7 linked regions of the Homo sapiens genome follow. The protein of the gene in region 1 purifies or fractionates together with the protein of each later gene. This does not show direct contact. Each region holds a gene or a part of one and is shown in the gene's direction. Other genes may lie near its edges. The genes, in order: PDLIM5, CACNA1B, HERC5, UBR3, TMOD3, MIB1 and MAP2K1.

The links.
Region 2: the proteins of PDLIM5 (region 1) and CACNA1B purify together in Homo sapiens (affinity purification with western blotting, with the first as the bait; one study listed by BioGRID). This does not show direct contact.
Region 3: the proteins of PDLIM5 (region 1) and HERC5 purify together in Homo sapiens (affinity purification with mass spectrometry, with the first as the bait; one large-scale study listed by BioGRID). This does not show direct contact.
Region 4: the proteins of PDLIM5 (region 1) and UBR3 purify together in Homo sapiens (affinity purification with mass spectrometry; one large-scale study listed by BioGRID and IntAct). This does not show direct contact.
Region 5: the proteins of PDLIM5 (region 1) and TMOD3 fractionate together in Homo sapiens (co-fractionation; one large-scale study listed by BioGRID). This does not show direct contact.
Region 6: the proteins of PDLIM5 (region 1) and MIB1 purify together in Homo sapiens (affinity purification with mass spectrometry, with the first as the bait; one large-scale study listed by BioGRID). This does not show direct contact.
Region 7: the proteins of PDLIM5 (region 1) and MAP2K1 fractionate together in Homo sapiens (co-fractionation; one large-scale study listed by BioGRID). This does not show direct contact.

Annotation. Positions count from the first base shown.
Region 1 is NC_000004.12:94,650,942-94,654,441, forward strand, and holds part of PDLIM5 (PDZ and LIM domain protein 5), read left to right. Parts: intron 1-3,500. UniProt on the Homo sapiens protein: May play an important role in the heart development by scaffolding PKC to the Z-disk region. May play a role in the regulation of cardiomyocyte expansion. Isoforms lacking the LIM domains may negatively modulate the scaffolding activity of isoform 1.
Region 2 is NC_000009.12:138,024,282-138,027,781, forward strand, and holds part of CACNA1B (voltage-dependent N-type calcium channel subunit alpha-1B), read left to right. Parts: intron 1-673; coding exon 674-891; intron 892-3,500. UniProt on the Homo sapiens protein: Voltage-sensitive calcium channels (VSCC) mediate the entry of calcium ions into excitable cells and are also involved in a variety of calcium-dependent processes, including muscle contraction, hormone or neurotransmitter release, gene expression, cell motility, cell division and cell death.
Region 3 is NC_000004.12:88,491,619-88,495,118, forward strand, and holds part of HERC5 (E3 ISG15--protein ligase HERC5), read left to right. Parts: intron 1-1,393; coding exon 1,394-1,537; intron 1,538-2,546; coding exon 2,547-2,713; intron 2,714-3,500.
Region 4 is NC_000002.12:169,949,454-169,952,953, forward strand, and holds part of UBR3 (E3 ubiquitin-protein ligase UBR3), read left to right. Parts: intron 1-151; coding exon 152-612; intron 613-3,500. UniProt on the Homo sapiens protein: E3 ubiquitin-protein ligase which is a component of the N-end rule pathway. Does not bind to proteins bearing specific N-terminal residues that are destabilizing according to the N-end rule, leading to their ubiquitination and subsequent degradation.
Region 5 is NC_000015.10:51,888,653-51,892,152, forward strand, and holds part of TMOD3 (tropomodulin-3), read left to right. Parts: intron 1-403; coding exon 404-493; intron 494-3,500. UniProt on the Homo sapiens protein: Blocks the elongation and depolymerization of the actin filaments at the pointed end. The Tmod/TM complex contributes to the formation of the short actin protofilament, which in turn defines the geometry of the membrane skeleton.
Region 6 is NC_000018.10:21,862,792-21,866,291, forward strand, and holds part of MIB1 (E3 ubiquitin-protein ligase MIB1), read left to right. Parts: intron 1-1,734; coding exon 1,735-1,875; 3' UTR 1,876-3,500. UniProt on the Homo sapiens protein: E3 ubiquitin-protein ligase that mediates ubiquitination of Delta receptors, which act as ligands of Notch proteins.
Region 7 is NC_000015.10:66,431,912-66,435,411, forward strand, and holds part of MAP2K1 (dual specificity mitogen-activated protein kinase kinase 1), read left to right. Parts: intron 1-3,115; coding exon 3,116-3,326; intron 3,327-3,500. UniProt on the Homo sapiens protein: Dual specificity protein kinase which acts as an essential component of the MAP kinase signal transduction pathway.

The DNA of each region.
Region 1 (3,500 bases):
CATGTACTTAGTAAGGGCTCACAGGACATCGAATACTAGAAGAGATAGCTGAATACTTAATTCCACTCTGCAGTTATCTAGGCCTGTCATTCCTGTTCACAAATGGAAACCCAATCCTACCTGGAACAAGAAGAACTTCTTTAGTGTTAATCCTGTGTTAATGAATTTGTTAAATTAGTCTTTGCTGACACAGAGAAGAAAACACTTTGCTATATGTGAAAGATTAATTTTATTGTTTAATCTGTGCATAATTTCAAGGGCATTGATGGAGAAAGATGCTCTTTCAGGACAGCCAAGAAGTATCAAGTTAGGCCAGTAGTTGCCCTGAGCATGCTTGTTTAAGAAAGGAGATCTGAGAGGAGCAAGGGTCATTTTCAGCTTGTTTTTTAAAGGTGCAGTGGGAATTTCTTTACTGTCTAAAATTCCTTTTGCTATTTGAAAGGAACTAATGAAATATTTTAAAGTCATCCTTTTAATGGACTGTAGTTTTAATTTATGTATTTATAGTGAACTATATTCCAGCAAGTTTGTAAAAAGACTTTTACAGGTATGTGAAATATAAGATAATCTTATAAATTACAAAAGGGGAAAAAGAATGAAATTCATCGATAGGCTCGTTAAAAATGAAGCTAACGTCGAGACTGGACGATACTAAAATAATGACCTGCCCACTTGCCTCTGGTTAGACTGTAAATCTGGCTTTAGGCCTTCTAGTAGTCTACCAAAAATGAAAGGTAGTTTTGCAATTTACAATAAGATAAAAATAAGACTACTGCTGAGGAAAAGCATAATAGTTCTTGCTGCAGAAATCAGGGAGGAATTTTTCTGAATGAGACCATGTGAAAGTGACGCTGGATGAGATCTAACAACACTCCAGCAACAACTTGCAGGAAGAGCAAGGGTGAATTTCATAGAGCTGTGTCCTGTAACAACTACCAGTACAGGTTCATGTATCACAACAAGCACCGTTCATAAAAGGAATAATCCTGCGGGGTGCAGCAGGCCCAATATGCTGTGATTCACAGAACCCAGTTTTCTGATGATCTGACTTGAACTCAATACATATTTTAGAAAATCTGGCAAATGGAATGTATTTTCCTTGGTCAGTTATTCTTAAATGTCTTTTTTTCTTCTCAGATGAACTTTGTCAAATATTTGATAGCATTGATAGACATGTTCCAGGAGCAGAGCTTTTCATTTTGTTCCAGGTACATACCAACACTTATGCTTTAACAGAATGCAGTTTGAAGTTGGATTGACTTCTTTGAAAACTGAGAAGCCAAATAAGAATACTAGCCTCAAGAGTCCTCCAGCCTTATGGATGAGCTAAAGATGTGCCCTAGTAAAAAACTCACCCTAGTAAATGGCTTTGAATCTGTTTTAATGTGCAGCCAGAGAGTAGCATGAAACCCCAAAGCTCTACCATGCTCTGTGTTATGGTCACAGTAAATTGAGCCTGGAAGATTTTTCATGCGTGTATAACCAGTTGCCCACCTGGCGGAAAAACACAGGGCACTCATCAAACTTTGTCTGGCTTTGAGCAGTGTGATTCCTGGTTTATCTTTGCTGATAAACTACTTGCCAAACATACACTGAGAAAATTAGATGAAGGAACTCGTTGAATAGGATTGTTATTTTATAAGTCAGTTGAAAATGATGGACCACTTACCAAAAGTAATATATTCGATTACAGAATAGGTGATCTGTAGCCTTTCTTTTCTGGCAGGAATTAGTAAACAAAGGCATTCCTTATTAGTCATAACAAAATTATGGTACCCTAAAGTTTTAAAAATAATAATAATAAACTGCCTATCTCAAACTTAAGAGAATGATATGTACTAGCTTATACAAAATGGCATCATGTTATTAATAAGAAACAAGTTAACAAAAAGTAGGGCTAGAAAATACCCTCTTACACCCCACGTAAAAATTTTTAATCACTCATCAAGAGCCTTTCTCCTTTTGTGACTCTTGCAGAATTAGGTGCTGATTCTGAGTAAACATCAATATGGTGACAAAGAATTTACAGTGGGAGATAGTTATTGAATAGCAAGGTTTATGTTATTGTCAGAATTTTAAAAATGCTGTGACTTTGCGATACTCATTGCTATGACTTCTCCTGTTAATAATCTGCCTGGAAGTCTGGTGTCTGATGCTTACCAACAATTACCATGTGGTCGCTTAGGGATGATAAGTGATGTTAATGAGGTCAAAGGCAGAATATCAGTTGACTAGAGCGGCATACTAGAAATCAGGAAATTCAACTTCTGGCCTTGGCTGGGTCAGTGATTTTATGATATTTGTCATATCTTTTGAACATTCTGTACCTTGGCTTCTCCATCTGTTAAACTGAATTCATAATAACTGTCCTGGTCTGTCTCACAGGAATGTTGCATGGACAAATTAGATAAGTGTAAAAGTGCCTTGGAGGTAAAGCTGCTCTATGAATATAAATTAGTGTGATATAGCTACTGAAAAGTATGTTGCAGAGGCTAGAATGGTTAGTCTCTGCAGGCTTCATGACTAGATAAGGCTTCATAATGGATTCCTGCCAAGCAAACCAAGCCCATCTTATCAGTTCATGACCATAAAGTATTTAATGGGGAAAAAAATCTCTTACAAACATTTGTTACCTTGATACAAATGTGTGTTAAAAATCGGTCATGTTGGGGAGGGGGGAGAGGGAAGTTGGTGCACAGTGGGTATAAAATTTCAGTTATACAAGATGAATAAGTTCTAGAGATCTGCTGTACAACATTGTGCCCATAATTAACAATACTACATTGTACTCTTAAAAATCTGTTAAGAGAGTGGATCTCATTTTAAGGGTTCTTACCACAATAAAATTAAATTTTTGAAATAAATCAGTCATATTTGAGTGAAATGAAACCTTTCTGAGTAGTTTCAGACAATTGATAATACCTAGTTTACAGTTCCTGTAGTCATTTTGGAGGGTGAGGACTTGATGTGTTTAGTAAAGTTGAGAAATAAATACATGAAAGAATGTGTGGGGAAGAGAAATTGTGGGGAAGAGAAATTGTCTCAGGTAATAGTTATTACTATTTTTAGCACTATGACTTACCAAATTGAAGTTTTTGTTTGTTTCTTTTGTAGAAGTGTCAAAGTCTCATCTCTGCCTAAACCATATATTTTTTTCTGGTTGCCTCATGTTCTGTCACAGTCACAGTTAACATCCTCATTCTCAATCCTACCCATGATGCAGACAGATTGCCTCATTTCAGCTCAATAAAACATCACCAAATTCCCTTAGGCAGAAAAAGGGTGGGGAGTGCCCTTTCTTGAAGGAATCCCTTAAGTGCACGTCTCCCGTTTTCTTTTCACATCAATGCAGAGTCCCTCTGTGAATTTACAACACCCAACACCCATGAGTTCAGTCCTTAAGAAGGAAAATTGAGCAAGTATTTAATTGGTTGGACATTGCATAAAAGAGGTCCATATCCAGGCTAACTCTAGAAATTTTATTCTCAAACTTAGTTGGC
Region 2 (3,500 bases), on another chromosome or scaffold:
CCCAGCTAGCCCAGCTTGCTCCCTGGGGCAGGACTCACCAACCCCGTGAGGGCCTGGGGTAACAGTGGTCCAGTGGCCAAGACCAGCAGTCGCCAGGTACCCACTGGCCACAAACCAACCAGAATACTTGCCGCTGGAGGCCCCAGCCCAGGGTCAACCCAGCCGCCGCCCTGTCTTTGTGTGTGGGTGGGTCAGCCCCATCCCTGCCTTTCGGACTAAAGACACGGAGGTGTATAGAGTAATTTAAAAAACGTACAGAAGGCCAGAGTAGCAGAGCAGGTGGTTATGGATTTAGTTGGTCTGCATGGAGGCTTAAGGGTTTTGGTTGATAGGATTTTGCTGATGTGCATTATTATTATTATTATTGGAGACAGGACCGCACTGTCGCCCAGGGTGGAGTGCAGTGGCGCAATCATGGCTCACTGCAGCCTCAACTTCCCGGGCTGAAGCGATCCTCCCACCTCAGCCTTCCCAGCCTGAATAGCTGGGACTACATGCACGTGTCACCACGCCCAGCTAATTTTTTAATTTTTGTAGAGATGGGGTTTCGCCATATTCCCCAGGCTGGTCTTGAACTCCTGGGCTCAAGTGATCCTCCTGCCTCTGCCTCCCGGTGCCGGGATCACAGGTGTGAGCCACTGCGCCGAGGCCTGATGTACATTCTTGATTGCAGGGAGCCACACTGTGACCTGGAGACCAGTGGGACTGTGACTGTGGGTCCCATGCACACACTGCCCAGCACCTGTCTCCAGAAGGTGGAGGAACAGCCAGAGGATGCAGACAATCAGCGGAACGTCACTCGCATGGGCAGTCAGCCCCCAGACCCGAACACTATTGTACATATCCCAGTGATGCTGACGGGCCCTCTTGGGGAAGCCACGGTCGTTCCCAGTGAGTATCTCCCTGTGCCAGTGGGGCAGGGCCCATCTTGTGCAGGTCCAGCAACCCCCATTCCCTCCTGCTCCACAGCAGCCACTGGGGACCCAGCCTACCTCTGTGAATTGTTCTCCTGGCTGGAGAGAGAGTCCTTTGCTGTCAACATCTGTCCCTTGATGTCCTGTTGATTTCTAGTGCCCCAGAGATAACTGAGGTTGAGCTCCATTCTCCTTCCTTCCCAAAATATTTGCACGTTGCCAACTAAGTGCCAGGTGCTGTGTTAGAGTGCTGAGAGCATAGTAGGAGGGAGACAGTCTTGTCAGGAAGACAGACCACAAAACAGGCACAACTCTTGATGGTTGCACAAAAGCTGCTGGCTGAGGACTCTGTCCACGGCCTTGACTGGGGCTGAGAGCGAGGGGCTGCAGAGGAGGAGGCTCTCCACTGCGTCTGCCCATTTGTTCATGGGCCTGTGCCATCCCTGCTCTGAGGCTGTGCTCCCAGGCCTTTATTTGAGCTGCCTTCTTTCCTCCCCTTGCTCACTCACATGCTCGGAACAGCCTTTCCATGCCTGCCTGTGTGCAGTCCCTGAGGGCACAGGGGACCAAGATGTCATTCCTGTCTTGAAACCTGTCTAATAGGGAGAGATCTGCTGGTTACAAATACAGGCCCCTTACGTGGTGGGGAAGGTGCATGGGCGTTTCATGGGCATCAAGGAGGAGCCCTCCTTTCTTAAGTACAGAGAAAAAAGGGGTAGAAGAGAGGCCATAGAAACAGGACTCACATGAATGCCAGCAGAAGCATTTAGGTCTTAAGCAGACCAGACGGACTCAATCAGGTGCCACCACATGCATGCCCATGTTTGCAGACGGATCTCCACACACAGATGTGTGCATGTCCGTGTTTGCAGATGCATCCGCACACACAGACGTGTGCGTGCCCATGTTTGCAGACAGATCTCCAGACACACACATGTGCATGACATTCTCTCTTGCTCAGGTGCTCTCACCTGGGGCCTGTGGACTGGCGCACAATTCCAGGTATAACCATGGAAGACACAGCCTCTAACTGCTCAGCCTCCCCTTTTCCTTTGCTTCCTTGGAGGAAAGTTGCCCTTGGTTCATTTTCTTGTTCACTTCCCATGGGCACAAGTGAGTCTGCCTGCCCAGCTCCCTCACCTGATTCTCTGTGGATCAGCTTGAGGATGAGCCTAGGTTCCCTACCTGGCTTTTATCTGCAGGAATCCAGATGTGACTCCTCCCCAGGCTCCCTATGCTCTTCCCCACACCCCTGTTGGCAACCACTGATTTTTTCACTGTCCCTATAGTTTTGCCTTTTCTAGACTGTCATAGGGTTGGAATCATACAGTATGCAGCCTTTTCAGATTGGCTTCTTTCCATTAGCAATATGCACTTAAGTTTCCTTTGTGTCTTTTTGTGGCTTGACAGCTCATTTGTTTTAAGCGTTGGATTAATAGTCTGTCTTTTGGGCATACCACAGTTTATTTATTCACCTATTGAAGGACATCTTGTTGCTTCCAATTTTTGGCAATTATGAATAAAACTGCTTTAAACATTCATGTTCAGGTTTTTGTGTGGACATAAGTTTTCAACTCATTTGGGTAAATACTTAATAGCATGCTTATTGGATTATATGGTAAGACTGTTTATCTTTATAAGAAACTGACAAACTATCTTCCAAAGGGACTGTACCATTTTGCATTCCCACCAGCAATGAATGAGAGTTCCTGTTGCTCCACATCCTTGCCAATATTCAGTGTTGTCAGTGTTTTGGATTTGAGTTATTCTAATTAAGCGTGTAATGATATCTTGTTTATTTTGCAATTTCCTAATGACATATGACGTTGAGCATCTTTTAATGTGCTTATTTGCCATGTGTATAATTTTCTTTGATGAGATTCCTATTCAAATCTTTTACCCACTTTTTATTCTGGCTGTTTGTTTTCTAGTTGTTGAGTTTTAGGAGTTCTTTGTATATTTTGGATACAAGTCTTTCATCAGATATGTGTTTTTGCAAGCATTTTCTCCCATTTTGTGGCTTGGTTTTTCATTCTCTTAATGTCTGGTGTTTTCGATTGCTAAAAACAACTGATTGTCTGGTCCCTATTATTACTTCTACTAGAAACAGAAATCTAGGCTATTAGTTTTTATATGTTGATTATGTATCCTGCTACTTTTCTGAATCCTCAAATTGTTTATTAGTTTCACTGATTCCCCCTTTTTTTCCGAGATATATTATCAAAACTTCTGCAAATATACTTCTAACTCTTTCTAAGTCTTACACCACTCATTATTATTTTTTTGTCTGATTTCACTATCAGATAACAATGGAATTACTGGGCATTACCTTGTTTCCGCCTACATTAAATAAAATTTTGGTTTGGGGCCTGAGGGATGTGTGTGTGTGTCTGTTTGTGTGTGTGTAAAATTATGTTGTGGTATCCATTAGTTCCTACTTCAGTAAGTGTTTTTATCTGGAATAGATGTTGAATTTTCTTGAAGACCTTTTCAGCATCCATAGAGATCATATATTTTTTTCTCCTTAGATATGGGGATTTATAGTAATGAATTTTTTGATATGAAATATCTTTGCAATCTTAGAAT
Region 3 (3,500 bases), 6.2 Mb from region 1:
AGTCCTTGGAGCTTGGGGATTTACAGTTCTTGTTCTTCTTGGAGAGACCCATTTAAGTGGAGAAGTGGGTTTGGAAGTTGGCGTATATCTCTGAAGTTTGGCAAGAGTGGAAGGAGCCCGTGTTTGTATTGGAGACAATGTGTTGGGATTTTTTTTTTCCTTTTAAGGTTAAGGGGGACCTTAACATGTTTGTGAATGGAAGTGAAGGATTCCAGGAAAAGGCAGGAATGGAGGGGTGACTGAAGGAGCAAAGATGGGTTATGATAGCATCCTCTTGGGAGGGATTGGTGTCAGCAGTAGGGGTGCAGCCTCCTCGGGGAGCAAACAGCCACTTCAGCAAACACCTTATGTGTGCTCTGGTTTTTTGAATATCCTGATTTTTATTATTTATTTATTTATTTTTGAGACAGAGTCTCACTCTGTTGCCCAGGCTGGAGAGCAGTGGTGCGACCTTGGCTCATGGCAACCTTCATCTCCCGGGTTCAAGTGAGTCTCCTGCCTCAGCCTCCTGAGTAGCTGGGATTACAGGTATGCATCACCACACCCAGCTAATTTTTGTATTTTTAGTAGAGACGGGGTTTCACCATGTTGGCCAGACTGGTCACGAACTCCTGACCTCACATGATCCGCCCACCTCGGCCTCCCAAAGTGCTGGCATTACAGGTGTGAGCCACCACGCCCGGCCAATTTTTATGATTTCTTTCTGTTTATTTTTATTATACTTGGATCTGGTGACTATAATAGTGATGCCAGTTGAGGTCAATTTAGGTAAAACTTTTACCTAAAGTGGTAAAAACTTTAGGCTCTGGGGTTTGACTGATAAAGGATTAAATTTAGGCTGTAGGCCGGGTGTGGTGGCTCATGGCTGTAATCTCAGCGCTTTGGGAGGCTGAGGTGGGTGGATCACTTGAGGTCAGGAGTTCAAGAGCAGCCTGGCCAACACAGTGAAACCCCGTCTCTACTTAAAATACAAAAAAATTAGCCAGGCGTGGTGGTGCATATCTGTAATCCCAGCTACTCTGGGGGCTGAGGCAGGAGAATCGCTTAAACCCAGGAGGCGGAGGTTGCAGTGAGCCGAGATCAGACCACTGCACTCCAGCCTAGACAACAGAGTGAGACTCCATCTCAAAAAACAAAACAAAACAAAAAAACTAGGCTGCACCACCTGACTATTGTATAAACTTGGAAAAGTTATTTAAATTCTCAAGGCCTCGTTATCTCATAGAATTAATGTAGAGATTAAATATGATAATATAAGTAGGATACTTACCTCAGTGCCTTCCAAATACTTGGGTCCACAATTAATGTTAGCTATTTACTATTATTAAATGAGACTTCATATATAGCAATATAGAGCCCTGGAAGTGATGTATTATTTGCTCTGTTTCCTCAGGTTTCATTTAGTGGAGAAATTGGGTATGACCTCGGAGGAGTCAAGAAAGAGTTCTTCTACTGTCTGTTTGCAGAGATGATCCAGCCGGAATATGGGATGTTCATGTATCCTGAAGGGGCTTCCTGCATGTGGTTTCCTGTCAAGGTAAGTTCCCTCTTCTTTGCTTAAGGTATTTTGCGACAGAAAAAGTACACCATATACCATAGAAAATTAGTTTGTCTAGACTATTTCATGTTAGAAGAGGAGTATTGATATAATTATGGAGATAATGTATAATTCTAATAAGGTGATTATTTTCTTTAAAATGGAGTTTCCTTTTCCTGGGTTCCCATGTCTGTTCACATCGAACTCAAGCAATATATTTTTTGATCATTTATATAATGCATGGATTAAAAAGGAACCCTCTCTTTTTTAGGTACTCATTCTTTGTGTCAGTTCTGTTTTCCTAATGAATTTGAAGACAAAGGCTGTGGAAAGAAATTGTGAAAACTAGTTTATAAGGATTACTGAACCTAATGTATTTTTATTGCTGGTATGCTTTTAGGAACCAAAACTGTGGCAGGGATTTATTTGGTTTTTTATTTGTTTGTTTGTTTTGTTTTGCTTTATTTTTGAGACAGAATCTCACTCTGTCACCCAGGCTGGAGTACAGTGCCATGATCTTAACTCACTGCAACCTCCGCCTCCCAAGCTCAAGCCATTCTCTTGCCTCAGCCTGGCGGGATTACAATAACTGGGATTACAGGCTCCTGCCAACACACCTGGGTAGTTTTTGTATTTTTTGTAGAGATGGGGTTTCACCAGTTTGGCCAGGCTGGTCTCAAACTCCTGACCTCAGGTTATCTGTCCACCTTGACCTCCCAAAGTTCTGGGATTACAAGCGTGAGAGTGGCAGGGATTTAAATTGACTTAATGACCAAATATTAGGTTGGTGCAAAAGTAATTGCAGGTTTTGCCTTTACTTTTAATGGCAAAACCTGCAATTACTTTTGCACCAACCTAATATAAACCCTAAACATTCTTATCTCAGGCTTTAAATTTTTCAATTTGAGATTTGATTTTATGAAAGAGAAACAAAGATTTATTTAATATAAATATTTCATTGTACTGGTAAAAACTCATAATACTTTAAGATTTTTTTTTCGCTTTTCAGCCTAAATTTGAGAAGAAAAGATACTTCTTTTTTGGGGTTCTATGTGGACTTTCCCTGTTCAATTGCAATGTTGCCAACCTTCCTTTCCCACTGGCACTGTTTAAGAAACTTTTGGACCAAATGCCATCATTGGAAGACTTGAAAGAACTCAGTCCTGATTTGGGAAAGTAAGTAAACAGAGTTCCTGAGAAAGGACCCTTTCTAACATATATTTAGGCAAATATTTAAGTACACACGCTTCATAATATTTCCATGTTCAACAGCAGCATTTTAGGTACTTTAGACCAGTTTTAACTTTGACAAGAATTGTTGGATGATAATTTCGTTTTCTAAAATTAGGAAGTGTTGATTATTCCCATAACTAGACTTCAATGTTTGCATTAATCTTTCAACTTTTTCTGTGTAGGAACAGTCATGCACAGAGCACAGGTTACACCTTGGTGCAAAATCTGCTAGTGATATTTATGTTAAATGTTGTTTCATGTCATCACCTTTAAAATGGAAACTTATTTCTAAGTTAAAAGACAAGCCACCACCTCACCAAAAAATGGCAACAGTAAAAGGGTTTTCATATCCCTGCTGTGTAAAGCATTCCTACACATCCGTAAGAAATATTCACAAAGTATCCAAGAAGGCAACCTGGCAAAGAAGCAATAGAAATGCTTCCTAAATAAAAATGTCTTCAATCTCACCAGTGCTCATAGAATGCATATTAACGTGAGAGGCTAATTTATACTTCAAGTTGACAGTGGTTTGAAGTGTTGATGCTATATAGTATTAGCAAGGGCTTGAAAACTTTCATTTTAATTTCAGGTATTATTCGTGGAAATATAAATTGGTACTCCTTTTCAGAGAACAGTGTGGCAGGACTTAGCAAAATCAAAACATATTTGCCTTTTCAACTCAACAATTCTACTTCTAGACATTTAACTTTCAGAAATACACAACCATGCA
Region 4 (3,500 bases), on another chromosome or scaffold:
AAGGGAGAAATTTATTTAAAGAGCAAATCTATTGAATAAATCTTTGTATGAAACTGAGCATTCCCTTTAGAAAATATAGTACTAATATGTTTTTAAAATGATGCTAAATAACTTCTCTTGATTTTTCTTTGTTTCTCTTTGTTAATGGTAGAATTCTGGTACAGCTCAAGTTTTCAGTTTAGTAGCAGAACGTAGAAAGAAATTTCAGGAAATCATCAATCGCAGTAGCAGTGAAGCAAATCAGGTGGTTCGTCCCAAAACTTCAAGTAAATGGTCTGCTCCTGGTTCAGCTCCACAGTTAACTACAGCCATTTTGGAAATTAAAGAAAGCATATTGTCTTTGCTAATTAAACTTCACCACAAACTCTCAGGAAAACAAAACTCCTACTATCCTCCTTGGCTTGATGACATAGAAATTTTAATCCAACCAGAAATTCCTAAATACAGTCATGGAGATGGTATAACTGCCGTGGAAAGAATTTTACTAAAAGCTGCATCGCAAAGTAGAATGAACAAACGCATCATTGAAGAGATATGTAGAAAAGTGACCCCTCCTGTACCACCTAAAAAAGTCACTGCAGCAGAGAAGAAAACATTGGACAAAGAAGAAAGGTAATTTTTATTTTTAATGTTTTAAACGTGTGTATAGTTGAAAATTTGATATTTTCTTCCTTTTGGTCATTTGAGGATAATCACCTGGATGTTTAACAGGAACAGTCATAGCTGATTAGTTTGTAACATAAATGGAATGGAGCATAGTCAGTGCTTGTACATGTGATGTATTGAGTTTATTGATGGACAGGTGAGACTTTCTGACCCCAATGTAAAATTACTACCTTAAACCTGTGTGTCTCTTTGGAAAAATTGCTACTGCTTTTATTGCTGTAGGGATCTAATAATTCTCTTACTGTTAAAGTTGAACTGTTCAGCTTTAAATGAGAATATTAAAAATATTTAAAATATTTCTCAAAATAAAAATCCAACTGCTTTAGTTTCTTTTGGTCTTTTCTAATCTTTATTAATATATGATTGCTGATTTTTAAAAAGTGATGTTTTAAAACACATTCTGACTAACTTATGCTTCTAGCTTTTGGATCTTTAGGTTGCTTATAATTTGTTGTTAAATTATATTTATAAACTTTTTTTTCATCTTTTGACTTTCTTGAAAAAAAAATGGGATTTTTTTAAAATCTCAAGATATATACTATGTTATGTGGGGTTTGTGGGTCAAGGACTATGAGCATGGTTTGGTTCTTTTTTTTAGTGGTACATTGTTTGCCAGAAGAGTTGTGTTACTGTGCATTGTCACAAATTGTTTCCCAAGAGCCTTGTCAACATTGCTGACCCTGCTGTCATAAACATGACAAGGTGAATCTTGAGAGATTGAAACTCTGCATAATTGTCAAACTCTTGGAAAGGGTTCAGTGTTTATTAAAGAAAAAAAAAAAGAGCATGCCTTCTAATGAGTGTACACAGGCTAAAAGACCCAGGACATTTAAAAAAAAGATTTCAGATCAAATTCAAGATAGTCATTGCTCACTTCTCTGAGGTTATAAATAATATTCATTGTTTTAATTTCTTTATTATTTAAGACAAATTTGTCTACCAAAGCAACAATTATAGGGGAAGGGTACACATTTCCCGTTAGGGAGGGTCCAAAGAGATCACATCAATATTATCTTAATTTAAGAACCTAGGACCTTTATCATCTCAATCTGTTTTATATAGGTAAAAATCATTGTCAACAGAGTTATCTGGACTACTGTTGTGAGCAGTATGACTAATACATTATTTAGCAGTTTGAAGTGTACTTTAGAGGTATTTTCTGGATAATTTCATCTTCTTAGTTACTTTTAAAATTAAATATAGGCAGTTATGGGTTAAATGATCAGTGGAAGCAAGCCTAAGATGGATCTTACTTGATTGATCCGTTTCTCATTCATTGGGTGTCAGTCAAGCAGTTTTCTAGACATATCTGTGTCTGGTGTTGGACTTCCTGACCTCGAGGAATTGATACTATAATGGAGAGACAGACTGGTAAACAGATAGTTTGTTAGTAGTGTTAACATAGTGTAACAGATACTATCTTAGGTACACAGGGTGTTAATGGGAGTAGTAGGACATAAGGCTAAGAAGGTAACCATGTATCGTTAACTCGCACAGGGTATAAATGGTTACAGGGAAACTGTGGAAGGATTTTAAGTGAGGAATAATATATAGGGTAATTACATGAGGGTAGATTAGAGTGGGGTAAGACTGGAAATTGGGAGAGCAAGCTACTTAGTCATCTAGTGGGGCAGGTGTGGTAAGGGTCTGAACTAAGACAGTGATGATAATAAAGAGAGGAGGAGATGTGTATGAGATATTTAGCAGGTACAAGTTGTTAGACTCAGTCATCAGGTTGATGTGAGAAATGAGGGAGATGTCTTGAATGGTGCCCTGATTTCTGACTTGAATAATGTTCCTTTTACCAAGATAATGGAGTGTAGGAGGGGTCCCAGGCTCATTAGTAAAAGTGATCTGTTCAGTTCTGGACGCTACTAAGTTTAAGAGGGACACCCAGGTGAAGGTGTCCAGTCAGATATAGGGTTTAAAACTTAAGGGAGAATTCTTAGAGCTACAGATTTGAGCAGCTAGGTAGTAGTAAATCCTTGTATATGGGAGAAGGTTTACAGTAAGAAAATGAGAAGACTGAATGTAGAACTTAAGGGAAAAACATTAAAGGGAATGACTGAGGAAGGGGTACCTACAAAGGTGACTGACGAAGGGATGGCTGAGCAGAGTAAGAGAAAAACTGGGGTGAGTGGCATTAGAGAAGTCACAAGAGGAAGTTCAGAAAGCAAGAAACTTATCAAAATTGTTAAGTGCTACAGGAGTTCAATAAGATTGGCCATCCTATTTGATTTGTTAGTTAGGAGGTCATCCGTTGGTACCTGTATAAGGAGCAATTTTAGTCACATATATAGTTACACTACATCTCTGATGTAATTAAAAGTTTGTTGGGAGGCCGAGGTGAGTGGATCACAAGGTCAGGAGATCAAGACCATCCTGGCCAACATGGTGAAACCTCGTCTCTACTAAAAACATAAAAATTAGCTGGGCGTGGTGGCGTGTGCCTGTAGTCCCAGCTACTAGGGAGGCTGAGGCAGGAGAATTGCTTGAACCTGGGAGACAGAGGTTGCAGTGAGCTGAGATCGCGCTGCTGCACTCCAGCCTGGCGACAGAATGAGACTCCATCTCAAAAAAAAAAGTTTGTTATAAAAAATTTATATTAATATATGCAAAAGCTTATGGTAGATTAAGAATTTAGGAGAATTCCTAAATTGGAGTTATAAAGAACTAACACAAAATTTGTTTCCGTGGGAGAAAGGACATTCAGTAACATATAATTCAGATGACCATTCATTAAGTTTGAATTAGTAATAGCCTAGAATGTAATAAATCTACTGACAAAATTAGAAGGTTGAAAATGAGGTAAGATTGTTATTTTTGTTAATTAG
Region 5 (3,500 bases), on another chromosome or scaffold:
CACACATTAAAATATGAAGGTTAAGTTAAAAATCTGCTTTTTGTCATATTATGTTCCTAGAAACCTTGTGAAATTAATGAACGGCAAAAATAGATCATTTCCATTTTCTCTCTTAGCCACTAGATGGAGCTAAGCATAGATTTATGTTCAGGATTAGGCTGCCTCCAACTCTGAATTTGGAAATGTGGGGAAATGTAAATTTAGAAATGTGGGGGAAAATAATAAGAGTATTGAGGAGAATGAGATTATAGGTGATTTTTAATCATTTTGTTTTCTGTGTGGGTGTGTGATCTGTAATTTATAGGAAAAGGTCCAGAGGATATTAAAATTATTGATAGAAATTTTTAGTTGTAAAACTCTTCATGTTTAAAACAATAAAAACTTTCTTTTTCTGTATTTATAGCAATTCTTGGGATGCACAATTTGATAACGAATACAAAGTTCTGTAATATAATGGGAAGTAGTAATGGTGTTGACCAAGAACATTTTTCAAGTGAGTACTTAAAATGCTTTGTGAATTCTAATCCTTTATTAAATATATTTTGTTTTCGCCTTGTGTCAGCTTAAGTGTTCACATACTAGATGTTATATATATGTACTTGAAACCTGACATTTCAGTTTGGTGGTATTAACCAAGAAAGCCATTGAAAATAGAGTATTAAATATTTTGTGTTTAATGGGTCAGCAAATGTAATAAGAACCACTCTACCTCACTAAATAATGCTAAACAGTATAAAAGCTAGTCCAACTTGGTTTTGTTGACATTTTATTATCACTACTACTAATTTTCAAGAAATACATAACAGTACTTACAAAGAAATTACATTATAAAATCAGATTCAGGAGATACCACAAAACTATTCAGCCCCTAAACCTTTCAGTCTGATGTGAAGTATTATATAGCCTAAAGCAAAGCTTTTCAGAAACTCATTTATAGGGGCCAGGTGTGGTGGATCATGACTGTAATTTCATTTTCTGAGGCTGAGGCAGGAGGATTGCTTGAGTCCAGGAGTTCAGGACCAGCATTGGAAACGTAGACCCCCATCTCTAAAAAATTTTAAAAATTAGCTGGGCATGGTGGCACATGTCTCTAGTCTCAGCTACTTGGGAGGCTGAGGGGAGGATGGCTTGAGCCCAGGAGCTTGAGGCTGCAGTGAGCTGTGATCACACTACTGCACTCGAGCCTGGGCAACAGTGCAAGACCCTATCTCAAAAAATAAATTCATGTATAGGGTGTTCTTAAATTAGCAAGGTGATACATGCCTTTGTAGCACATTTAAACAGTACATAAGTATTTATGGGAAGAGGTAAAAGTGTCTCTGTCTCCAGCCATCATGCCCTCTACTTCCCCAAACACCACCTACCCTGTTAACAATTTTGTATATACCCTTCCAGGCTTTGCACTGTTTATACTAATGTATACATATTATACATAGTCTCTTATTTTTTACAAAAAATCGATTATACTGTAAATATTTATTGCAACTTAATTTTTCAATAATAATTCTATTAGCTAATTTTTTTTTTTTTTTTGGAAACGGAGTCTTGCTCTGTCACCCAGGCTGGAGTGCAGTGGTACCATCTTGGCTTACTGCAACCTCCGCCTCTCAGGTTCAAGCGCTTCTCTTGCCTTAGCCACCTGAGTATCTAGGATTTGACAGGTGCACGCCACCTTGTCCAGCTAATTTTTTTTTTTTTTTTTTTAGTAGAGATGGGGTTTTGCGATGTTGGCCAGGCTGGTCTCGAACTCCTGACCTCAGGTGATCTGCCCACCTCAGCCTCCCAAAGTGCTGGGATTACAGGCATGAGCCACTGTGCCTGGCCAACTGTTTTTGAATGCTTACTGTGGGCCATGTTGTGTGCACAGCTCTTGGACGTGAAGTACTCTTATTAGCCCTGACAACAGTTCTATGAAATAGATATTATTATTTTTAATTTGCATGTGAGAAAGCTGACATTTTAAAATAATTGGGTAACCTCAATATTTTACACAAAGTCAGTGGTAAGGATTTTAACCCGTGTTATATAGTGTATCACTTAGCAGTCGACCGTGTTTTCTAGTTAATATGTATACATCTACATCATTCAGACATGTGTATAACATTCCTTTCTACGATGTTTTGTAATTTGACCATCCCCCTTCTCATTTTTAAGTTTTTATTGTAGAAATGTTCAAACACACATAGAAGAAGAGAGAATAATATATTCATTACCCAGTTTCCGCTGTTTTTAACATTTGCCAGCCTTGTTTTATTCATCTTCTGTCTCCCTTCCTAACCCTTCTACTTTTTTTTCTTGACGTATTTTAAAGCAAACCCTGTTCATTTGTATTACATACCTATAAATATTTCCATATGTGTGTCTCACAAATAAAGGCTTTTCTTTTAATGTAATCATGATGCCATCATCAAACTTAAAAATTAACGGTATTTTCTTCATATCATGTAATACCCAGTCTGTGTCCAGATTTCCTCTGTTCTCTCCAAAATGTCGTTTCATGATTGGCTCAAAAAAGGTTACACACTGCATTTGGTTGTTTGTCTTTTTAGTCTCCCTTAATTTCTTAACAGTTCTCCTCCCCAACCTCTTTCCTTTTTTTTTTTTTTTTCTGTGCCATTTATTTTTTAAGAAACTGGGTTTATTTTTCGTAGAATTTTCCACATTCTGGATTTGGCTGATTTCAACCTTATGGTATCATTTTATGTTTTTCTATCACCTATGTTTCTGTAAACTGTTAGTTCTAGTGGCTTGATGAGATGCAGGTGCAGGTCCCTTTTGGCAAGAATGCTTCATGGGTGGTGACTGAATCATATTAAGAAGCTTATGAAGTCTAATCCTTCCTCTTTGGGGGAATGAGATTGATCACAGGGTTCAAATGTAGGCAGCCTGACCCATCCTTTTTAAGTTTCCCATGAACCTTTTGCTTAATAATTCCTGCATCCCATTGACTGGATTCATTATTTCATTAAGGGGCAAGGCTCTTAAGATTTCTCTCCCCATTCCATCTTTCCCCACTCCACAGGATGTGTGGAATGGGGAAAGAAATCTTTTGGTTTTATAAAATTAGAACTATTCAATTTTCCATTCAATGAGGAAGTTCTTCCCTAGCTATCTTGAAGACTACCTTGCTGAACTTAAGTGAGAGGGATCCCACTCTCTGTTGTTTAGCAGAGCTCCATTAGGAAGCTTTTCCTTGTCTTGAACCAAGTTCTGCTTCTTGGCAATCTATACTTGTTCTAACGCAGCCTCTCAGAACAGCACTAAATTTGTCTCTTCTCAACTTCTACAGGATAAATCTGAAAACAGCTAGGATAACTTCTTTTAATAGGTACTTCTCCAGACTAAATATATTCAGATTTTTCACCTGACCTCGGGAAAGTAATTTTCAAACCTTCATCTAAGTTGATCTTCTCAAGATGCTGTGTGTGTGTGATATTTGAAAGTAACAAGATACTCTTAGATGGAATTTATTGGATAATCAGTGCACCCTGTCTCAAGAT
Region 6 (3,500 bases), on another chromosome or scaffold:
AGCATAGTGCCTGACAAGTGTTCTCAGCTACTTCTCAGCACTGCTCCCCACCCTGCACCATGTATTGCATGATACATTGCCTTCTTTTTATGCAAGAGCAGCTGAGTACCTAGATTCAGGGAATTTCAGTTAGACTGAATGGAGCTATTTTCATCCATTTCCTATTACGTTTTGGTTTATATAGGTTTTTTTGTTTGTTTGTTTTGAGACAGAGTCCTTGCTCTGTCGCCCAGGCTGGAGAGCAGTTGATGCAGGATTTTTCTCAACCCCTTTGTCATACTTGCGACAGAGGTGCGCTGCTTACTTGGCCACTGTGCTCAACTGTTTGCGGGAGGGAGCACATGAACGAGCAATTGCAGGATCCATGCAGCGGCACCCAGGTGGGGGTGCCTGCGACTCCAAAGCCCCTGAGGGCATGTTAGAGTGCTCTCTTAGTTCTGCCGTCCACGGACAGCGGTGTGTTATCAGCTCAGTTGGCCCCTTGCCTCATAGTGTGGGGTAGCTGCCCTCCGCCAGTGAGGGCAAAGGGCCAGTGTAACAGCCTTATTTTGGGTACCCACACTCGGTGTGTCCCGAGCTCTTGTCCAGTGTTCAAGAAGAATGAGGTCACCTGGACACTTGAAGGATGGTGAAGGCAGAGAGTTTTATTAAGTGATGGAAATGGCTCTCAGCAGAGAGGGGAACTGGAGTGGGGGTGGGACGGGTAGGTAATCTTCCCCTGAAGTCCGGCCATCTCTTCCCTGAAGTTAAGCCATCTCTCCTCCGAAGTCCAGTCATCCCTTTGAAGTCAAGTTGCCTCTCTCCCCTCTACTACCTGGGTCTGGAGTCTTTAAAGGCACAACATGGGAGGAGTGGGCAGGGTGGGCTGTGGGTAGTTTTGGAAAAGGCAACAATCGATTGGTAAAAAGACATTATTTAGAAAGAACCAGTTGGGCTGGGCGTGGTGGCTCATGCCTGTAATCCCAGCACTTTGGGAGGCTGAGGTGGGCAGATCACGAGGTCAGAAGATCAAGACCATCCTGACCAACATGGTGAAACCCCATCTCTACTAAAAATACAAAAAAATTAGCTGGGTGTGGTGGTGCGCACCTGTAGTCCCAGCTACTCAGGAGGCTGAGGCAGTAGAATCACTTGAATCCAGGAGGCGGAGGTTGCAGTGAGCCGAGATTGCGCCACTGCACTCCAGCCTGGCGACAGAGTGAGACTCCATCTCAAAAAAAAAGAAAGAAAGAACCAATTGGGAGAGAGTGGGCAAGCAGGAATAGAAGTTCTCACTTTGGCCTGTGGGTTTCAGGCTTTTCAGCTCAAAGGTTGGGTTTCACTGGGGACCCACCCTTGTCTGCCTAGAATTTCTCTGCCTCCTGCCTCTATCACAGCGGCGCGATCTTGGCTTACTGCAATCTCTGCTGCCCGCGTTCAAGTGATTCTCGCGCCTCAGCCTCTTGAGTAGCTGGGATTACAGGTGTGAGCCAGGGTGTCTGGCTGTGTTTTATATATTAATAGTTTTTAATCTTATGTAGTACCTTTCATACTATCCTGATAGTACAACCAGTGTTTCTATTTTATTTTATAGGGATGACATTTTAACTATTTAAAAATGTTAAAAAATTGTTTTTAAAAACCACCAAAATATTATTTGACTAAAACAACTAAAGAAAATTAATGATATATAACAGTCTGTCACTTTCCAAATATAAAGTGTCTAATTTATTACTTTGTTATCTCACATTACAGACAATGTGCCCTGTGTGTCTAGATCGTCTGAAGAATATGATTTTCCTTTGTGGTCACGGAACCTGTCAACTCTGTGGAGACCGCATGAGTGAATGTCCTATCTGTCGCAAGGCTATTGAACGAAGGATTCTTTTGTATTAACTAAGACACATGGTGTATTTTGTTAGCTAATGTATCTAGTCATGAGATCTTAATAGGCTTTTGATCTAGTTGGAAGTTCTGATGAGTTAATTTCTAATATCATAGTTTCTTTACTAGAGTATAATTGGGCTGTAAATGTACCAGAACAAAAAACCCTACAAAATGGTGTTGGAAATTGTGTTTTTTGTTTTTGTTTTAAATTTGAAACATCAAATTCATGTAACTCATAGGATAATTTACCTTTGGCTTCTAAGAGGAAAGTCCTTTAAGGATATCCTTTTTTAAAAAATTGCATTTTTCTCTTATAATTTGTAAATTTGTTGGATCTCAAAAGACATAATTCTTTGTGATCAGTTATCCTTCATTTCATCGTGGTTTTACACAGTGAGTTGATAACAGGTTCTCTGAGAAGTCATGCATCAAATAAAAGAGGCAGGTCAAACAATTATGTCACATGGTAAATTATAAAATGACAGTACAAGTTCCAGATAGTTAAGGGAATACCGAAGGGATGATTCTTTTTTTAAGATAACAGGAAGTTACCCACATGTTTGTTTCTGAATTCTTAGAGTAAATGGAAGCATAGAATGAGGGAATAATGACTTTGCATTTCTCTTGTTTTCTAGATTCAAAAGGAACATTGTTTAACTTGAATCAGATTACCAGTTTCAAGGTGACTGATAGACAAGAAAAGGAAAAATAAGCAATAATAGTGGGCAACTGAAGAGAAAAAAAAAACGAGTATCTATTAACTGGCCACTAACAGTTGCCTTTCTTACATTAATTTATACACTATTTTGTTCAGCCAGTGTTTTTAAAAAAAATCTATGAAAAGTGTACTTCCGGTTTTCTGTGATTACTTATCTGGGCTTGATCTGACCAGTGAAATGACATTGCCCTATTTGGACCTCTGAGGTTCTATTTAGCTTTGCAGATGTACATAGTATCCCAGTGATCTGCAAAATTAATGCCTTTTCCAAGAAAAAATCTTTTCTTCTCTGTATCAGTTAATTCTGACAGTGTTAGTGATTCTGTCTTCATTATAGGCCTTATTTCCATTATCTCTTTCTTTATAGTATTTTTTGTTATAAAGAAAACAGTCTTTCTGTGTATACCTACGGATGAGGGTATTATTTAAACTGCCAACAATATCCAAGACATGGTCAATAACCTAATTATAAATACTTTAGAAAGAGTGACCAGGACATGTATAGAAATGTCTGCTTACCTGTAGACTTTAAAAACAAACAAAATTTTTGGAGCATTTAATCATTTTTTTTCTCCTTTTATCTCCTTTGTAATCTTATTGTCTCCTGAGTAAATATACACATAAATGTTTGGGGATTCATTGCTGCTAGATTATATCAGGTGTTTACATAGTGTCTACTATATGCTGTTGATAAGCTTTTTCCTAAAAATAGTTATCCTCTTTTGTAGTTTTTTTCCCTCCTTTAAATCTGGCTAGCTTTTCTTACTTCAGTTTTTATAGAACACCAACTAAATTTGAAAGTATGAAGTCTCTAGCCCTCTTACACTGTTTCTGGCTGTTTAATCCTTGCTGCCTTTGCAAGTCCTGGTGAAAGCAATGGGGAGCTTTGCTGGCTGGTTTTGTAGTCTCAACAATT
Region 7 (3,500 bases), on another chromosome or scaffold:
TTCAGTTCCCACTTACTAGTGAGAACATGCGGTATTTGGTTTTGTATACCTGCGTTAGTTTGCTGAGAATAATGACCTCCAGCTCCACCCATGTTCCCGCAAAGGACGTGATCTCGTTCCTTTTTATGTCTGCATAGTATTCCATGATATATAGAGGAGAAATCTGAAATGTGGCAAGGTTAAGTGACTTGTCCATGGTCACACAGCTGGTTGATGAACAATTTGTGATAAGAATCCAGGACTCTTGAATACTAGTGATTTGTCAACACGATTCCATCTCCAGTCCTCATCCATACACACCTGCCATTAGGAAAGTCTTTACCACCCCAGCCTATAGTCTTTGTCATTTCTCTCACTGGCCAGCTTCTGAAAGTACAGGTCAGAAGCCAGTTCATTAGCTGGTAGGGTGGGTGGTTAAACGGCAAGGCATAGGAGGTAGAGGAGGGAGAAAGGAAGCACAAAGCTCAGGCTTAGTTTTTCCTCCAGAAGGTGTAAGAATTACTTATTTCAAAGAGTCAGAAAAGTGAACAGAGTCAGCATTCCCTTTTCCTTTGCAAATTGATTGAATTTCTATGGCGAGTATTAGCTGCAAGGCAGTGTTAATCTGCTCCAGCAGATCCATCATCAGATTGATGTGCAGGGGAGACAGGATTGTCTCTGGTGCAAAGGCCTTTTTGTGTAGGGCACACCATCTTTATGTATGATTGAGGCCTGGTGTGTTAAATGCCTCACACTGGGATCTTACCCATGTTTGTCAGTTGCCTCCCTTGAAAGTATTGAGCTTTTTGAAGATAATATAGCATCATGGTTAAGGTAAGACATTCGTTCTCTCTGCCTGAATTTGAAACGTGGCTGTGCCACTTACCAGCTCTTTGACCTTTGACATCTTAGTTCACCTGTCTGTGCTTGAGTTTGCTCATCTGTTCTAATTAGGGGTTGTGGATTAAATGACTTAATAAATGTAAAGCACTGAGGAGAGTTACACAGTGTTGTGAGGAAAGCAGTTTTTCTTCCATGCAGCCCTCCTTCCATTCCCCCATCATGCACAGTGTGTGTGTGTGTGTGTGTGTGTGTGTGTGTGTGTGTGTGTTGACAGCTTTTCGAATCTGCATTTCTAGCTGGCCTGCTGAGCCTGTCAGGCAGCTGTAACCTCACTCAGGTTTTAGCTGTGGGGTCCATCTACATTTGACATGTGTTTCTAAATGTGGTCCTCAGTAAGCTCCTTTGTGGGGAGACCTTGGAGAAAGGAAACCAGAGAGTGTGCACTGTGCACCCCCAGCCACACATGTTCTGGGTTCCCACACCTTAGGGACTGGGGACACTGCAAGACATAGCCGAACCTTGGATGAAAATATTGAGTAGCTGCCTCAGTTTGCTTGGACTGCTATGATAACATATCATAGACTAAGTAGCTTAGACAACAATAGTTTATTTTCCCACTGTTCTGGAGGCTGAAAGTCTAAGAGCAGGGTGCCAGCATGGTTGGGTTTTGGCAAGAGCCCTCTTCCTGGCTTGCAGATAGCTGCCTTCCTACTGTGTGCTTGCATGGCCTTTCTTTGATGTGTGCAGCAGGTGGGGTGGGGGGAAAATCAGTGAGGAAAATCAGTAACCTCGGCCTTGCATCTTCTTTGGTCCCATGCATGATGTTATTTGTAAGGCAGTGTCAGATCTCCTCATACATGGAGAGGCATTAAGTCTTCATTTCCCTGTCTTCTAGAGGTTTGGGATAGAGGGTGTGAAGGAAGAGCAGATTATGCTTACTCTATCTTTTAAGCTCAGAACTGGGGTGTGTGTGTTGGCAGGAACACCAACATGATGATGTATAATGAAGGCCTATCTTGTCACCTGTGTCACTTCAGCCACCCCACACAATTGTCACTGACATGCTTCACCTCCCGGGACTTCAATTTGAAACCCAATGAAATCCAGTGAAACACAGTGGAAACTCTTACCACCTTCCTGTTAACCAACTCACAGGAGTGATGAACACTTTTCAGTTCCCTGGATGAAACACTCTTGAGCAATGCCCACAGCATGCTGAATGCACTGCAGGCAGGCTGCTCTCTGCCATACCCACTCGCTTCAGCACCCACTGGCTGAATTATGTGCTTACCAAGAGCCAGCTTGTTCCCAAACCCATTTGTTCAGCTGTAGCTGGTATTGTAGTTAAGTAATGTATTTAGGTATCAGATAAACTGATGAAATGTAGCTGCAAATGAAGTGATTTTTTTCCCCTATGAACACTAGTTAAAAGCTGTGGAAAGACTTATAAGTCCAAGTCACTAAAACACATTACTGTCAAACTAGATGAACATTAAGATTGGGGGAAATCATAAAACTCTAGAATTTTATATTGTGATTACTCTGCAAGTAATCACAATATAACTTTAACCAGCTTTAACAAATCAGGAATAGGAAATTGTCGACAATGTATTATGTTCTGGTCCATGTGCGAAGGATGATGTGGACCTCTTAACCAGTGGGTCCTCTTTGGACCCTTATTCAAAGAGTCTTGCCCTATGTTAAAGAATGGGCGAATGAATGCAGATTTATATACATTGAGTAAAAATAAGAATTTTAGATATGTAATTTTTATGATTTTTTGCTGTGACTTTTTTGATTAACCTGGTTCCTGGACCTGATTACATTGAAAATGAGGATTTCTACTGTTGTGATTCAGTTTAAAGTTGGTTTGATTTCATTTTAGTGAATTTAGGGTATTTTATTTTGCGTATGGTAAAAACAATAAAACCAACAGTAGTGGGGCTTTTTAAACTGGGGTTTTAAAGCAAATTAAGGTGGCTCATTCTGGATTTTAGTAGGTTCTTTTGTTCCTCTCATTGACTTGCAGCATACTGAGTGAGAAAGACCTAATTTTTTCACTTTATAAATGAGGAAATTGAAGCCCTGAGAGGTAAAGCATGTTGGTGATAGTCATCCCGGGTGGCTGGAGTGAAGTGGGCAGAGCCACAGTGGGAGGGGGCCTCCTCTCTAGCCTCCCACTTTGATTATCTGTCTGGCCCCAGACCTGGAGCTTTCTTTCCATGATAGGAGTACTTCTTTGGGTTGACTTCTCTGGTGACAGTATTGACTTGTGCTCCCCACTTTGGAACAGGACCAACTTGGAGGCCTTGCAGAAGAAGCTGGAGGAGCTAGAGCTTGATGAGCAGCAGCGAAAGCGCCTTGAGGCCTTTCTTACCCAGAAGCAGAAGGTGGGAGAACTGAAGGATGACGACTTTGAGAAGATCAGTGAGCTGGGGGCTGGCAATGGCGGTGTGGTGTTCAAGGTCTCCCACAAGCCTTCTGGCCTGGTCATGGCCAGAAAGGTGAGTTTGCCTTGATTAACAGGTAATTGGATTATTTCTCAGGGTACTTAGAAGCCTGGGGACCAGGGTAGAAGGAAGACTGATTTTACTCAATACCTTTTTGTGCTGTTTGAATTTTTTTTTTTTTTTAAGACGGAGTTTCATTCTTGTTGCCCAGGCTGGTGTGCAACCTCC